Linked DNA regions of Homo sapiens: region 2 is linked to region 1. Evidence: fine-mapped expression QTL. Tissue or cell type: skeletal muscle. Region 1 holds a variant in brackets; the other region holds the start of a gene. All regions are shown on one strand. Distances are from middle to middle.

Region 1 (8,106 bases):
TTCACAAGCGTGGTGTTCTCCAGCGTAGTCCTCACCACCTCCACCAGCACTCCAGCCTAAGTCAACACTGTAATCTACAGAGACACTTAGAAACACAGTTGGCAGAGTGAGTACTGCTCCTCCCTTTGCAGGCAGGGAGACTGGATAAATATGTTTGCTGTCTTTGGGATTTTTTTCTGCCTGTCCAATTGCACAAATAATTTTGGCTCCCAAGCTCTCTCCTGACAACCATGGAAACATGACATGAAATTTCTCAAACACACTTTCTGATGAAAGCAAGGCATGCTCTTTTTTATTTAAAGAAAACAGTTTCCATGGGGAGGAAGAAGAAGAATTAAAAAAAAAAACAAACCTTTGTAGATGCCAAGCACATTAGTTGTTAAATCTTGTTTCTTTCTTTTCCTTTCAGTTGAGGTGGGATTTACACCCAGATTTGAGCAGTGGAAGAAAGCTGGGATTGGGGAAGAGATGAAAGAGACTGGGGGATGAGGGCTGAAAATCAAAGTCAAGACAGGAGAGAGAAATCTGGGGGTGGGCAGGAGGGGAAAGCAGGCCAGAAGGGAGGAGTGGGAGAGGAAGAAGGAGAGAGACTAAAAAGAACCTATTTTGCAATGTCATTAAATGATTTGCAATGAATTGGCCTGAGGCTTCAGGAATTTCTTGGCTTGAACCAATTAAAAATACTTCATTTTTAAAAAAGACATAAGAGAACGAGAAATGCGATTAATCCTCAAAGACAAGTCAAGGATGGAGCCATGTCTCCACTGGGTCTGGCAGCCAGATGAACACAGATGTCTGGTCTGTAGACCATCTCATCTACCCGACTTCAGGGCCGCTCTGAGGTAGGGCTGGTTAGCAGAACTGGGGAGTTTCTTTTGGACTAGATGAAGGAATGAAATAGTTAGAAAAAAAATATACTGAAGAAAGAGCAGAAGGAAAAAAAGATTTACTTGCCAGCAACCCACATCACACATATTTCTCTGATCAACCAAATACAAACTATAAACTTAGCAGTGGGAAAATTAATGTGAGTCCTGGTGGTCTGGACTCATCAGAGCCAGAGCTGGATCCTGGCACAGGCTTTGGAAGGGCTGGCAGCCTGTGCAAGAAGAGAGGGAGGAGAGAAAGCGGAGGCTGAGGAGCTGAGAGAAAGAATGGGGATGAGCACTTTGGTGTGGCTGTGATGAACAGAACTCCAGGTGGGAGAGACGGGGCAGTGGGGCCTGCTTTTTCTTCCCACACACCTGGAAACTGCATACTCCCATCAGCCTCGGTGGCACCAATCCCATCCACCCACTCCAAAATGCCCCTTGAGGTATATGTGAGGACAGTGGTCCCCAACCTTTTTGGCATCAGGGACGGGTTTCATGGAAGACAATTTTTCCATGGACCATGGGTGGGGAGACTGGGGGGGATGGTTTTGGGATAAAACTGTTCCACCTCAAATCAATAGACATTAGTTAGATTCTCATAAGGGGCGCACAACCTCCTAAATCCCTCGCATGCACAGTTCACAGTAGGGTTCACCCTCTAATGGTGAACCCTATTCTATTGAATGGTGAAAACCTGTTCTGTTCTGTTCTGTTCTGTTCTGTTCTTTCTGTTCTGTTCTGTTCTGTTCTGTTCTGTTCTGTTCTGTTCTGTTCTGTTCTATTCTATTCTAATAGAATCTAATGCCACTGCTGATCTGACAGGAGGTGGTGTTCAGATGGTAATGCTTGCTGGTCCACCGCTCACCTCCTGCTGTGTGACCCTGTTCCTAACAGGCCATGCACCACCATGGAACGGTACTGGTCTGCTGCCTGGGGGTTGGGGACCCCTGTGTTAGGTCATGGAGCCAAATTCACTGGCATCTCCCTGAGGTTCCAGAATTTCCTCCAAACATCTCAGTTTCTTTCCAATGTTGTTTTATGCTTCTGACATTCATCAATTTTTCTAAGTCTTTCTTGAATCCATTTGTATCTTCAACCTCTTTGTATCCTGAGTCCCTGCTTTATCCTTTCTTATATACTTCTTGAAAACTTTAAATATATCAGAATTTGAAAAGGAAATTCAGAAATTGTTAATTTACCCTGTGTATGCCCTTTTTCATCTTCTAGACCTCAAACATGTTTTATCTGGGAGTCTTCCTCTTTCATGACATTCACAGAAGGCCTATGGTGTGCCAGGCCCCGTGGACAGCACTGTGGACACAGATGCATAATAACAGTTCCTACCCTCCAGATAGAGAGGCAAGAAAGGGCTGTGGAAGCAAACCCAAGGTACTAAGGAAGCCGGGAAGAGAACCTACTCTAGACTTGGAAGTTGAAGGGGTCAAGAAACATTCCTAGAGAAGATACCTGAGTCTTGAAAACTGAGAAGGAATTAGTAACCCAACAGAGGTGGGAACTTTCTGAGGACGGAGATGGAGAGGAAGATGCTGCCAGCTGAGGGACCACCATTCTGAAAGCTAGGAGAAAGTGCGCGATGGAAAGTGGGCCTGAGGGAAAGGCTGTAAGCACCTCACTATTAATCACAATTCTCCCTATAGGAAAATAAATGCTGTTTCTACTTCAGCAAGTTTTTTTCCTTTTGTTTACATTTTTTCTCATTATGAAGTGATCATCCTTTAATTTGGATGTGAACACTACGTCTATTTGCAGGACAGACTCACTGTTCTATAGAGCTCAAGATTATTACCAGACTCCAAAAATGGCTGAAAGTCTAAAAACAAAGTCAAAGTAGAAATTGCTCAACTTTTCCACACACACACGAGAAACAGGGGATGCTGAGGTGTGAAGCTGTTTTTAAAAAATGAGGGAACCAAGGACTCATTTGCTCTCTTGGTTTTCTTTTTTGTTCTAAAGAAAGCATCTTGCACCATGCTCCTTAAAGGAGTCCAGTGATTTCAAGCCGGCAAATCAATCTTTCCCTTGGCTTCTGGTGCAAAAGGCTCCTCAAACTGTGTTTTGGCTCACTGAATCAACATACTACACAGCCCTTCCCTTTTCTCTTAGCTTAGAAAATGAACCCAGTATTGTATTTAAGCATTTGGCTGTGAGTGCAAAGAATGAATTGAGGACAAGGGTGGAGTGGGTTAAGAGTCCTTAAGGGTGTCCTTGGTAGAAGATGCACTATGAACCTGAGGTCTGTTTGGTAAATAGTGACCTCTGATAAATATAGAATGGGACTCCTGGCTGTTTGGGGCAGACATTTGCTGCCAAGATGCTCTGAGCAGAACTTACACCACGGATCTGTCTGGGTACTTGCACCAGGGCTAATAGGACTAGTGTAGCCAATGCCATTTGAAGATTTCACCAGAATATCAGGGATAATTCTAGTGAGCTATTAATTTCTGCCTGCATCCAGTAGAAAACAGAAAGCGTTGATGTAACTTTGTCCTAAAGCTATAAGGTATTCCTTATTCATTTCCTATTAAGATGCTCAAGTTGCTCAGGCACCTTTTAGATCTCAGCCATCTTTCAATAATTTTCTTGCCCAAGTGTCAAAGTAAAATACACATAACTTATGGTATGGAACAACTAAATTTCAAGCTGGCTCTCCTTTTCCAACTCCATTCCCCTGTGTGGAGCTGTCTCTGTCTCTCCCAGCCAAAGCAGGCTCACACTCTGCCCCAGC[T/G]GCAAATCTCCTTCCCCTCCTGGGGCAGCTTAGGAAGCCACCTGTGTTTTCTTTCCCTACAACCCTTCTCACTGCCATCCCTTCATCCCAAAGCAAAAAGCTTGTACAGGATTCCCTGATGCCCAAGCCAACACATAAATGTTTTTCCAATTTGGAGCGAATGGCTCCTCCTGTTTTGTCAGGGAGTCACTGGCTAACTGAACCAGACGGGGGCGGAAGTGGGGAGTACTGGAAAAAACACTCTAAGTTTCTTTCTTAATCAGAAAATGTTCATACCCAAAGAGAAAAGAGATGAGAAACAGTTAAGAAATGGGGTGAGCGGGGAACAGGATGGAGAGAGAGAGACAATCACCTGGTGGCTAGATTAAGAATTCGATTGAGCTCACCATGGAAATATCTCACTATGGAAATAAAACTTTCTATGGCAGTATCGGTGCCATCCGAGAAACTGAACTGGGCCTAGGTCTGAATACACAATGTTAAGAGCTGAATTTGGTTTTTAAAGGTCTGAGAAAGGTATGTGAGGACTCAGAAATTAAAAATCAAGGTTGTCTTGTACACATTCTTCAAGGCTCAACTGCTGAGTCTTCCGCAATCCCCTGAAATGGAAATGAATCCTTGCTAGCCTCCGAGCTCCCATTAAAATCTGTTCACATTTCTGGCGGGCAACTCATGGGGCTGGCTTGCTTTATGACTAATGTGTTAACAAAGTCCACCTTCTCCATTAGACTGAGAGATGTTCAATGGCCAGGACCAGATCTTACTGTGCTCTGTTAGAAATTCTAAATGTTCCCAATTCTTAGGGCACCAACCTCCAAAACATCCAAATATAGGAGTCAGCACTGGAGAATGAGTGCTTTGCTGTTTTTCAAGTGGGACTCATGAATTTTGGTCTTGCCTTATTTAATAGAAGCCTTTAGAAATAGAATGCATTAAGTTGTAAGGTATTGAGGACAAAATTAAATTAAAGAGGTAGATTGTTAATTGTAGTAAGAAAATATATTCTGGGAAGAAAATTATAATGACTGTTGGAAATGAAAGATAAATTATTTTATTAATTGAGTTCTTGCTTGCTTGTTTCTTCTCTCATCCTCTCCACCCCTACACTTCACAGAGGAGTTGAGAAAAAAAAATCTTGAGAAAAAATCAAGACATAGGTTTTATATATATATTTAAAAATCAAGACTAGGGGAAAATTAGGAAAGGATAGTCTTAATAAGATAGCCCAAATTAAACCACAATTTTGCTCTGAGACACCTGTGGCCAAAGAGAATCCAAACAATATGCCTCTGCCAAGGTGAGAGGACTTCATGAAGCTGTTTCTGCAACCAGTGAATGCATCTCTGGTAGGGGCTGGGGCAACAGGGTCTCTGTGTCTGCATCTTCCAATGGTCAGCTCCACCCAAGGTTGAAATCCAAAGCATCCAGAGGTTTGAATGGAGCTCATGGCTCCATAAAGGTTAAGGAATAACCATTGTCCTGGCAGCGTGGAAACATCTCCGTCTAAAGGTGCCATTAATGATTCTGGGAGCTGGACTTAGGGAGAATCTAATTTCTTCACATTGTCTCCAAAGAGACATATTCCAAAAGAACTCCAGGCAGGTGGTGTATTTCAGGTGGACAGTAGGGGACTGTGATGGTTAATTTCATGTGTCAACTTTGCTAGACAATCTTTTACTTTGAGAAAATAATTACCCTCCCTAGTGGGGATAGGCCTCATTTGATCATTGAGGGTATTAATAGCAAAGACATGTTTTCCAGAGAAGAACACAACACAGAAAATATGCCTGAGTTTCCTGCTTTTACCCTAAGACTGCAATATCAATTCTTACCTGAATCTACAGCCTGCATGAGCTAACTCTTTAAAATAAATCTTTGTATAATATATAATTATACATATACAAAATTAAATATATTATACATATATATATACACACACACACACATATATGTATTATTGGTTCTGCTTCTCTGGAGAACCCTAATACAGAGATAAAGGAAGCTAGAAATATTTTAAGAAAGAAATCGCTACAATGGTCCTTAATGGACTATGGACTATTCTAGTTCACAGTCAGAACCTAGGTGACCTTAGTGAAGTGTGTGATGGGAATTAGCGGTTAGGGGAGCTGAGCAAAGAGACATAGCTTCTGTTTGTAAGATTCACCATGCTGAAGGCCAGGGTCAGCCCAGCCTGTCAGTGCAAAACAACAGCTGTCTGTATACGGCAGCAGTTGAGTGGGCAGCAGTGAACCCACAGGAGCATCAGTGAGCAGCTCTGCGGGCTACACTGACAATGCACCATGACACCGTGGCTGCTCCTGAAGGCGGCTGGGGTGGGAATCTGAGTTAGAGAGCACATGTATATAAGGAACTAAGAAAGTCACAGGAATGGGTTAGTTCTCTCTTTATAAGAAGCCAGCCCTCTATTGGTTCTGGTTATGACTGGAAGCTCTGCCACCCTCTGGACTGTCTTCCTAAGGGTCACTCCCAGAATGGAACTGGGCAGTACAGGGCTGGACACGGGCTTTAGAGCCTCCAGAAAGGAGACACTCCAGAAATGTTTGACAACCACATGGGCGAACAAATAAAGCCTGGGATTTCTAAAATGCTCTCAAATACTAATATTATACATTCTCCCATTTATCCTCAAAAAACCCATGAGACTGGTGATGTAATTACTGTGTTCATTTCACAGCTGTGGCAGTCAGTCTAAAGACCAAGTGATTTGCTCAAAGTCATGGAACACTTAAATGGCAGAGCTAAGGCTTAAACCCAGAATTTAAAAATTTTTTTTAGCTTCTTGTTTTTTCCATTATACCAGTTTGGCCCTTCATTTTATTCATGGGTTAAATTAAATTATGGTAACAAAGGGCCCCTGGTCACTTTGGACATTTTCTCAAAGTCAGAGATTCATGAGGTTGAGTGGCGAGGGGGACTCCTTCCTTTCTTGTCAGCCACCTTGCCTGCTGATCTCTGATGCCAGAGACAGGACCATTCAGGAGTATATGCCTGGCCTTGGCGCTAGGAGGCCTTAAGGAGCGGTGACCGATCTGTTCTCAATTATACCGGCTGCAGCTTAAGACTTCACATTAACTTGAGGACTAAAATTCCCAAGTTTAGAATTATAGGTAGCTACCTGGTTACCACCTGTTTTATTTCCAGCTACCAGTGGGACCTAGGGATGATGGGAGAATTGGGAGAATAAAATTATCAAAAAATCTTAAAAGTTAAAAATAAACAATTATTAATGGTTGACTGTTAGAGGTAAGGGATTGAGAACAGCTTTTCCACTGCCAGCTCTGATGAGTCGGTTGTGACTCCTTGCCATACTGTGTTGAGAACAGGCCTGAGGTGGAACTCAGGGTCCAGTAAGAAGGAGTGGAGTGCTCCCTGGCAGGGTCTGCTGTTGGTTCAGGAGCAGACTGGGAACAGCTGAGCTGTGTAGAGCGGTTGGCTGCCTGGTGTGAGGCTTGTGAAAAGGGAAAGGGAAGTGAAAGGAAGGAGTTCAAAGTTAAAAGCATTTCAAAAACCAAGAATTAGACAAGATGATCTGAAGCAGGGCATTGGCAGCAAGAAAGTTTTTCTTTTTTTTTTAAAGTTTAGGTTAAATAGGAAATAAAAAACTCTTCAGAGGACAGCGAGATGGGCACCTCCACAGAGCATGCAGCAGCCATTACCCACATGGCCAGGACAACCTGGGGTGGAGGGAGGGAGAGAGTGCAGGTGAGACTCTTCAGTTGATTTGACCTCTGGCTCCATTTTACCGAAAATCAAAAGATGATGTCACCTGGTCAGGGTGAAGTACAAGTGGACCCTCCAGCTTCCAACACTGGACCAGAAAATTATTCTGCTAGAGGCCTCCCCTCCACCCCTGAATCCTCAAGCCTGGTCCTAAGCCCCATGACCTATAGCCCCATGACCCTTCTAAAGGGTGGATGCAGGAGGTGGCATCTTGCCAGGTAGGCCAGACAGCAACTGCTTTGTGCGAGGATGAACATGGGACAGCGTGGAGAAGAGGCCAGAGGAAAAGGAAGCCTACCATGCTGAGTGTGTGTGGGTGTGCATGCGTGTGCACCGGCACGCCGCTGCCCAGTCTTTCCTCTAAATGCAGACCGTGCCTTCGGTAATCCCGTCTACCACTTGGCCTCCCTCATACATCAGCCAACCAGCAAAACACAGCCCCTATTCTGCTCAGGAATGTGCTTTCAGAAACTTAATCTACTGCTGCGTCTGGGCCAGATCCCCTAATGGCATTAACCCAAAGACAGCACCCCTTTCACTTGCCCCCACCCACCTTCCCGCCACCTCGTTGCTGCCTCCTCCAAGCTTTGCAGTTCCACTCCACCAACTCCCTCTTTTTCATGACACAGCCCCCCATGCCTGCTCTCTCAACTTTCAGCACTTCTTCTTTCTAGTCAGGCCCAAACATTTTGCCTTCTGATTCATGTCTAAATGACAAGCCAATAGTTCTTGGCTTTCAAATAAGCC
Region 2 (8,106 bases), 47 kb after region 1:
CAGCAAAAACCAAGGGTCAGCTGCTAGATTGGAGAAGGTGGCTCCTACTGAAGTAATACTATCATGAGGTAGGACAGAGCTACACAGCAGAGCTTTAAGAAATTAGGGTTTTAAACCTAGGTTGTTTTAAAGCTGGGTGGTGACTTGATTATAGGACTCATGGAGAATGGGTGGGATGGTCACAGGTTGGCACTGGGGGCCCAGCCACGTGCCAGCAACAATTGTCAAGGGCATCAACAAGTCTGGTGGTGGCAGGAATGAAAAAGATGGTGGAGTAATAAAAGGAAGGGCAGGAAAGAGCAGGCAAACTTGGGGAAGGTGTCTAACTGGGTGGCAGTAGAGATGTAGGAATAGATTAGTTCAGTGGTTTGAGTCAGTGTGAATGGAGTTCACAGGCAGAGCTTAGATTCCAACCCCAGTTTCCTAACCCTCCTAAAGGCAGTGCCATTTGAGATGGATCCTCTAAACCTTCCTTCCTGCATTCCACCTCCTCTTCTCTATCCGTTACCAACCCTGAGGGCTCCAAAGAAGCAAAACCTTCTTTAGGCAAGCTTTTCATAAACACGGGTTTATAGATTAAAAACAAACACCCTCTCCCATCCCACCCCCTAACCCCAAATATTTGAGTCAACCTCATAAATTATGAAAATGTTACATGTTAAGGCTCCATGTGGGAGCACACTTAGGATTTGGGTCTTTCCAACCAACAGCAAAGTAGTTGGCTACATCTGTTCTCTGAGTCTTTAGTCAAAAATGTAGAGACACTTCAGGGCTGTCTGATGACAAAAGTTCATACTCTTATCACAACTATGTCAAAAGTATGCATGCACATGATGAGCAACACAAGTCCATAGGATTGTGGATAATTTAAAAAACATTTTCTTAATTACAAGTAGATGCTTGTACAATAAATAAAAACTGAGGAGGAACCATCATTTGACTAATAAAGCTTACTTTCCTGGGACAAGGAAGCTTTCAGCCTGGTGCCTGATGCACTAAAAATGTTTGCTGAATTGAAGTATGGAGATGACAAGAAGTTACATATGTTAGAGTAAATAGATTTTTCTAAATGGAACATATTATTTTCTTTCCTCTCCCTCTCAAATTTCGATTCTTTTCTCCTGTCCCATATTTTCCCAGACAGCAAGAGGGCTTAGAGTTTGGAGGAAAGAAAGCAACTTCCAAATATATAATATCTTTTGGTGCCAAGTTAATATTTTCTTATTCAGAGGCCACAAGGTATTGGATAGCAATTATTTGGTGCACCTGAGTTTTCTGTTGTAGTTTGAAAGACACAGAGATAAACCCTAATTCATTACCCACATCAGTGGCTTTGCCGAAATTTGAACCCAGACCCCCTAGGGGACACGGAACACTATGACACATCAGGCTCACTTCTTGCTCTCCTTTTTCAAACCGTGGGGGGTCCATGTGAAAGTCAACTGAATTATTTCATGGGTAAAATCTCTTATTCATTCTTAGGGCATGGAAACCATGTTGTTGAAGAGAGCCGGGATCCCAAACACTTGAAAAAGCACTTCAAAAAAAGGGAAAATCTCTGGACCCATTTGGAGGGTGGAAAGGAACATAAATCACACAGCTTACCAAGAGTTGGCTCACCAATTAACAGCTAAGCAGAGTCCTCTCTATTTTTTCCCCACACCCTCCCTCTCCAGTTGTAGTCAAAGAATCAACCATTCTGGCTTCTAGCAACCTCTTTTCCCAAGTAAAGCCAGTGGCCTATGGCGTGGGGGACAACTGCTCCCTAGCGAATGTCTCTTGCAGTGAAGCATTTCTGAAGTATCTCGATAGAGGATAAAAGAGACAGTGTCTGAGGTCTCAATCCTCAGGCTTCATAAATGTGTAGACACCCTCCAGCCTCCTCAAGGCCCAAATTCTGAGTGACAAATCTATACAGGGGAGGACAGTGTCAGCAAAGTGGCCCAATGAGGCAACTCTTCTTTCTTTCATTTTACCTCTTTGCATAAACTCATTTGAAAAACTCATAGCAGGAAAATAATAACTCTACTGCTGTTTCTGCCCGGCCTCTGTCCCACTGACCCCAAGGTGCTTTCAGATCACCACGAGAAGCTTCTGGGTCTCAATTATGAGACCATTAAAAAGTACCAATTATAAGACCTCAGAAATGTTTCTGGGAAACCTGTTACACACCTCAAAATGGCTAACCTCTTGCCTCAGATTTACTTTAAGTTCAGAAAACAGGTCACCCAGATGTATGGGCATCCTAGCCCCCACAAGCAGCCCAAGACTGTGGTTTAATATTTTCCATGCTGCCCTTAAGAAAACGAAGATTGATTTATTGGCTGTAACCAAAGGGATGAAAAAAACCATCACAGAGCTGGGCTGCCTGTTTAAGACCCAGTCGTGGAATAAATCAGAAATGTCTGCACACTGAAGTTTTAAAATGACATTCATCCAATGGTCAATGTGTACCGAGTTCTGGACAACAAAGAACTAGGTGACAAATGTGTGCTGGGCACAGTGCATCTGCAGGTGGCACAAGGGCCTGAAATCAAAATATAATCTTCACTCAGTCCACTCAAAGAGGTAACTCTGGGTCAAAAACTTAGGCGAACCCATTTGAACTTGCAGAGAAGGGATGAGGGGAGCAGCAGAACACCCCACCACACCCAAAAAGTGCCAGTTTGGGATTGCTGGTGTGTGGTTTCGGTATTCTTAGCTCTACTGCCACATCTCTGGAGGAGCACAACTCTGTTCCAAGCAACTCTGGCACTGCCACCCCCATCCCCAAAACAAAACTCTGCCAAACAAATCCCCGAGGCTCCATTAACTCCTTCAGGTCTGCCTGCCTCTCTCATCCCTCAGCATTCTCCCATCACCTGGAAAAGCAAATTAATACTGAACATCCTGAAAGTCAAGCAGGCCCTTCAACACCCCCATGAAAATTCTTCCTGGGTTCCCTGCCCTCCCCACAGCCCCGTCCCACTGGTTCCAGAGATTCATTTCCCACACCTTCTCACAGTTACATCAACAAAAACCCCAGGAGGACGCTGCTGGCGCGAACACGCACACACGCGCGCGCACACACGTACACGCACACACGAACTCTCTCTCTCACACACACACACACCTCTTTCACCTTTGCCCCAGCCCCTCAGACACCTCGGGCCACTCGGCTTCAGCCTCGCCCCTCTGCGCCAACAGCTAGGGATGCTTCCCTCAAGCTGCGTCGCTCCCGGTCCGCTGAGTTCCTCATTTTAGTGTTTTTCCTTTAGAAGACGCCAACTATGAGAAACCCTCACCCTCCAAAGAGGCCGAGTGCGTGTTGAGTGACTCTACGCATTTGCCGCCACGCCTCGGGTTCCCCCCACGGCCTGGAGCATGGGGCCGGGGCGCTGGTGTCAACCTTCGGTGGAAGTTTGGGAGGCTGGCTGGATCCTTCTTCCACCCGAGAAGCTTCTGGGAACCGCTGAGGCGAAACCACCATCGCCCGGCCAGACCGCTGCGGCAGGGAACGAGATGCGGCGCCCCTGGGCCCCGTAGCGGCTGCAGCCCCCGGGACCCCCGCTGCCCGCCTCGCCCCAACTTCTTCGCCCGGCGCCCGGCGCGCCCAGCCTCGGCCGCAGCTCCCAGCCCCGGGCGCCCGGCCGAGCGCTGGGACCCGGCTCCCGCCGCCGGCACGTCCCCCGGCAGCCACTCGCTGGCGCTGCCTCGGCCTGCGGCCGCCTCCCGCCCCCTCCTCTCCCCGAACCAACAGTAAACACAACTTTTTATGAAAAGAAAACAAACTTCAGCGACGTGACTCACCTCTGCTGCAGCCGGCGCCTGGGAAGGGCGAGCCGGGGCCCGGGGGCCAGCGTGGTGGGCGCGAGGGAGCCACACAGCGCCGCGCCGCACGGACACACAACACGCTCGGTGACACCGGGGACACACAACACGGGCGAGCGGCCGCGGCTGGAGCAACAAAGGAGCCGAGGACCGAGAAGTTGCGGGCCGGAGAGGGAGGGCGCGTGCGGGCGTGTTGTGGCTGTGGCGGGCGTGAGGGTGTGCGCGCCGTGTGTGCGCGTGTGTGTCTTTTCTGTGTGTGTTTGTGTGTCTCTGTGTGTGTGTCTGTGCGCGCGCGCGGCGGCTGACACCGGCGGGCCGGGGCTCAGGGTCCCCGCGGCAGAAAGCGGCGGCCGCGGGGGCGGCAGCAGGAGGACAACGCAGGGGACGCCGCGCCCAGCGCACCCGGTCCCTCCATATGGAAGAAGCTTTTTGGATGACTGAACTCGCAAACAATTCCTTCTTTTGCTTCTCCTGCCTAGGAGCCTCCCATTACCGTGCGAGGAGGAGGAGGAGGAGGGAGTGGAGGAGGCTGGGAGGAGGGGGAGGAGCAAAATGGAGCAAAGAAAAAGTCTTGGAAAGGAAGCTGGAAAAAGTCCCCCAAACTCTAGGGCAGTTTTCCCGTTAACACCCACTTTTTGCTGTGCCTCAGACCCGCGCTCTCCTCCAACTTCTTTTGCTTTCCCATACCAAAAGCACCATCTTCTCCCTTTTCCCCGAACCCAGGGGGCTCCCCTGAAGCCTTCACTTTCTCTTTAGCTTCACCTCGCACCCTTGCTCTTCCATGTACAATCCTTCCCTCCTTTCGCCTAGTCTCTTCCAAGACTTTCCTGACACCCACCTCTCAATGGTCTTCTTCTTCTGCAAGACAAACTGTTGGATAAATCATTAAAAGCAAACTCATCAGAAAATGGGACAGCGGCGGTGGAGAAAATGATAAGGAAACCAATCTCAGGGAAGCCTTAACGCAGCCTCCCCCGACCCCCTCGGTCGGTTGGGGAGGGTTTGCCGCGTCGTCCATTGACAGCGCCCTGACCTCCATTCATCATCCCAGGATGGAGCCAGGGAGGAATGGGGAGGGAGAGCTGGGGCTGGGGTTGGGGGCATGGGTTGGGGGTGCTAGTGGCCACGGAAAAGTTAGTTACCTATGCGTGTGTATGTGTACGCGCACGCGCGCGTGTGTGTTGGTCAGAAAACTTTCAGAGCTGTGGTTCTCAAACTTGATCTGCAGCAGGACTCCCTGGAAGGCTTGCTAAATCCCTTTGCTGGGCCCCACCTCCAGAGTTTCTGATTCAGTAGGTGGACCTGGGAATTTGCATTTCAAATAGGTTCCCAGGTGATGCTGATGCTGCAGGTCAGGGGCCACGTTTTAAAAACTACCTTTCCAGGGCAGTGAGAAGGCAAATGTTGAGTTGGTGGCAAATTGGATTCCCTTCTTATTTTTTAGGAATGAAGCACAGGTTGTGAGCGGTCATCCATTCCGTATCTTCATTGCAGCTGAGAAAACCAAGTCCCAGCAGGGCTAAGCCATTTGTTTAAAGTGAACTGGGAGTTTGTGCCAAGCTGGTGAGGAAGCTGTCCTGGAAATAAGACAGCCAGGCTAGTAGTAGGGTGAATGGGGGTGCTGCCTTCCCTGTGTGGCTGGACAGCTGCACTGGGAGTCAGGAAGCCACTGTGACTTTGGAAAGTCACTTAACTTTTCTGGGCCTCTGGGGGTTTTGTGTGTGTGTGTGTGTGTGTGTGTGTGTGTGTGTGTGTGTGTGTGTGTGTTTGTTTGTTTGTTTGTTTTTTGACAGAGTCTCACTCTGTCGCCCAGGCTAGAGTGTAGTGGTGCAATCTCGGCTCACTGCAAAGTCTGCCTCCTGAATTCGAGAGATTCTCCAGTGTCAGCCTCCCAAGCAGCTGGGATTACAAGCACCTGCCACCATGCGCGGCTAATTTTTGTATTTTTAGTAGAGACGGAGTTTCACCATGTTGTCCAGGCTGGTCTTGAACACCTAGCCTCAAGTGATCTGCCCACCTTGGCCTCCCAAAGTGCTAAAATTACAGGCGTGAGCCACCTCACCCGGCCCTGTTTTGTTTTTTATTAACTTGTTTCTTGTCAGTAAACATACATACTTTACACTGAGTATAGGACTCTAATTGAATCTGAACCAAAAGACCTTTACAAAGGAAACATAAATGTATTTTATTCCATATTTTGCACTATTTTTTCTCCGGTATTTAGTCATTCAGGCAGAAGCCAATTTCCTTTTTGATTTATCGAGTACTTTCAGCTCTGTGCCTGGATTCTTAGGCATGTTCCTCTGGCAAAATGGATCTGGAGGATGATGCATTTTCAGCAAGAAGGTGAAAAGGACTCTGAACTCTCTCTGTGCATTATCCACCTACATTTCCTTTTCCTACTTAATCATCCTAATTTTCCTTCCCTTTTAATCTCTAACAATCTCCCCCAACATTCTCAAAGACCTATTTTTCTTTCCAGTCATTGACTATATTAGCTTCCACTTTCTTTTGTCCTCCTTCCAAGGCACAATTCTGGACTACAAGGCCTGGGGTCCACCCTGGGTACAGAACTTTTAATTCCCCCAAGGGAATGGGTCAACCAGCTTCCTCTGCAGTGATAACACTCCTTCTCCCCAGGGACCCAAGCAGCGTATCCAGCCTTCTGTTTTTCAAAGATGATTCCAAGTACCGCTCAATGAGAACGTGATGCATGAAGGTCTCAGATTCATTCTTTTATATTCCTGTATATACTATTCGTTGCTTGACATCTCAAAGATATCTTCTACCCCTTCTGTCATCTTTCTCCTAGGACTCTCCATTCTCTTACTCTGGTCTTTGGGTCCACACAGCCCTAGGCTCTGAGTTAAGCATCAGAACACAACAGAACACAAAGAATGTAACAGTCCCTACCAGCACCATTTAGTCAGGAGAATGACACACTGCCTTGTTCCTTCATGCATGCAGGCTGCTCACCTTTCTTTCTTTCCTTTTTTTTTTAAGATGGAGTCTGGCTCTCTCACCCAGGCTGGAGTGCGGTGGCATGATCTCAGCTCACTGCAACCTCCACCTCCCCGATTCAAGCGATTCTCCCTGCCTCAGCCTCCCGTGTAGCTGGGATTACAGGTGCCTGCCACCACGCCAGGCTAATTTTTTTTTTTTAAGTAGAGACGGGGTTTCACCATGTTGGACAGGCTGGTCTCGAACTCCTGACCTCAGGTGATCAGCCCGCCTCAGCCTCCCAAAGTGCTGGGGTTACAGGCATGAGCCACTGCTCCCGGCCTGCTGCTCACCTTTCTTATAGTTTAGGCAGAATGCAGATCACAGCTTAATAAAGAGGACTTAATTCTGCTGGCGGCATCAAGCACACTGTTGGTACCTCAGATATGTTTATTGTTTTTATTGCTCTTTGTATTAATGTGATTGTGTTTATTACTACTAGTCCTGTAAGAACAACGTATCTGAATTTTCTCCCCACTCCATTTTGCCTGGAGGGTATTTCTTGCCTAATTCCCTCCTCCCCTTTCAATTAGTTTCTCTATCTTAACCCACCCCAACCCATTCCAGCATCTCTAGCCATTTCAAAACAGTTAGGTGGAGTCTGGATCTTGTAAGGTGCTTTTTGCTACTGTCCGTTCTGTTGATGGTGATTTACCTCTAGCACCTTGCTTTCTTGGAAATGTTATGGGCCTCCACCAAGAAGGAAGCATTTGGTATGGAAGTGATCATCACATTAATTTAAATGCTTGGTCGGGGGAAGGAGTGGGGAGGTGAGTAGGGATTGTAGGTCTATATAAGTCACTATGTTGCTAGGCTGTGCAGAATAAACTGGAAGGAATTCAGTGAATGACATGAAAAGACGTGGTTTCCTCTCAGTGTGCTGTAGATACTCTACCTGTATCATATAAACAGGGATCTCTTTGACTGTGAAAGATATCTGGAGAGGATTATGCTGAGAAAATTATTAAGATGTAGACAAGAAAGAAGGACTTGATGATGTTTTCCTCTGTTTTAATATAAATCTGCTTTCCTGATTATAAAATATGTGCACTGACAAAAATTTAGAAAATGTAGAAAAACACATAAAAGAAGAAAATCAACTTAAAGTTACTACCCAGGGATAACATTGTTATTAACATAGTGGAGTGTTTTTTCTAGTCATTTTTCTTTCTTGTTTTTGTTTCTCATCAATACAAATAAACACGTTATCGACACTGAGTATATGATTCTAATTGAATCAGAATTGAAAGACATTTAAAGGGAAACATAATTGGGGTGAGTTTATTCAATATTTTA

Alleles and levels. Alleles are on the strand shown, and positions count from the first base shown. SD is a standard deviation of normalised expression in the study named.
As copies of T replace G in region 1, the expression in skeletal muscle of the gene that starts at base 4,249 in region 2 goes up (moderate effect, 0.54 SD a copy in FUSION).

Evidence for each region. PIP is the estimated chance that this variant, and not a neighbour inherited with it, causes the effect.
Region 2: it holds the start of BOC, and the variant in region 1 is fine-mapped to the expression of BOC in skeletal muscle (FUSION, PIP 0.95).

The regions. Positions count from the first base shown.
Region 1 is chr3:113,254,214-113,262,319 of GRCh38, reverse strand. All of the region lies in intron 4 of BOC (BOC cell adhesion associated, oncogene regulated), which reads right to left. LOC124909409 (a long non-coding RNA gene) reads left to right here. Exons shown (of 2, transcript XR_007096006.1): 2 at 1-2,555. Among named protein-coding and RNA genes, the nearest start is that of BOC, 47 kb to the right of the region's middle. The variant T/G (reference allele first, on the strand shown) is at 3,619.
Region 2 is chr3:113,207,700-113,215,805 of GRCh38, reverse strand. BOC (BOC cell adhesion associated, oncogene regulated) reads right to left here and starts at 4,249. Exons shown (of 20, transcript NM_001378074.1): 1 at 3,790-4,249. It overlaps LOC124909486, which reads left to right and starts at 176. Exons shown (of 2, transcript XM_047449436.1): 1 at 176-274; 2 at 3,526-8,106. The coding sequence starts at 176. The coding sequence ends at 4,251. RefSeq lists an enhancer at 3,237-3,888.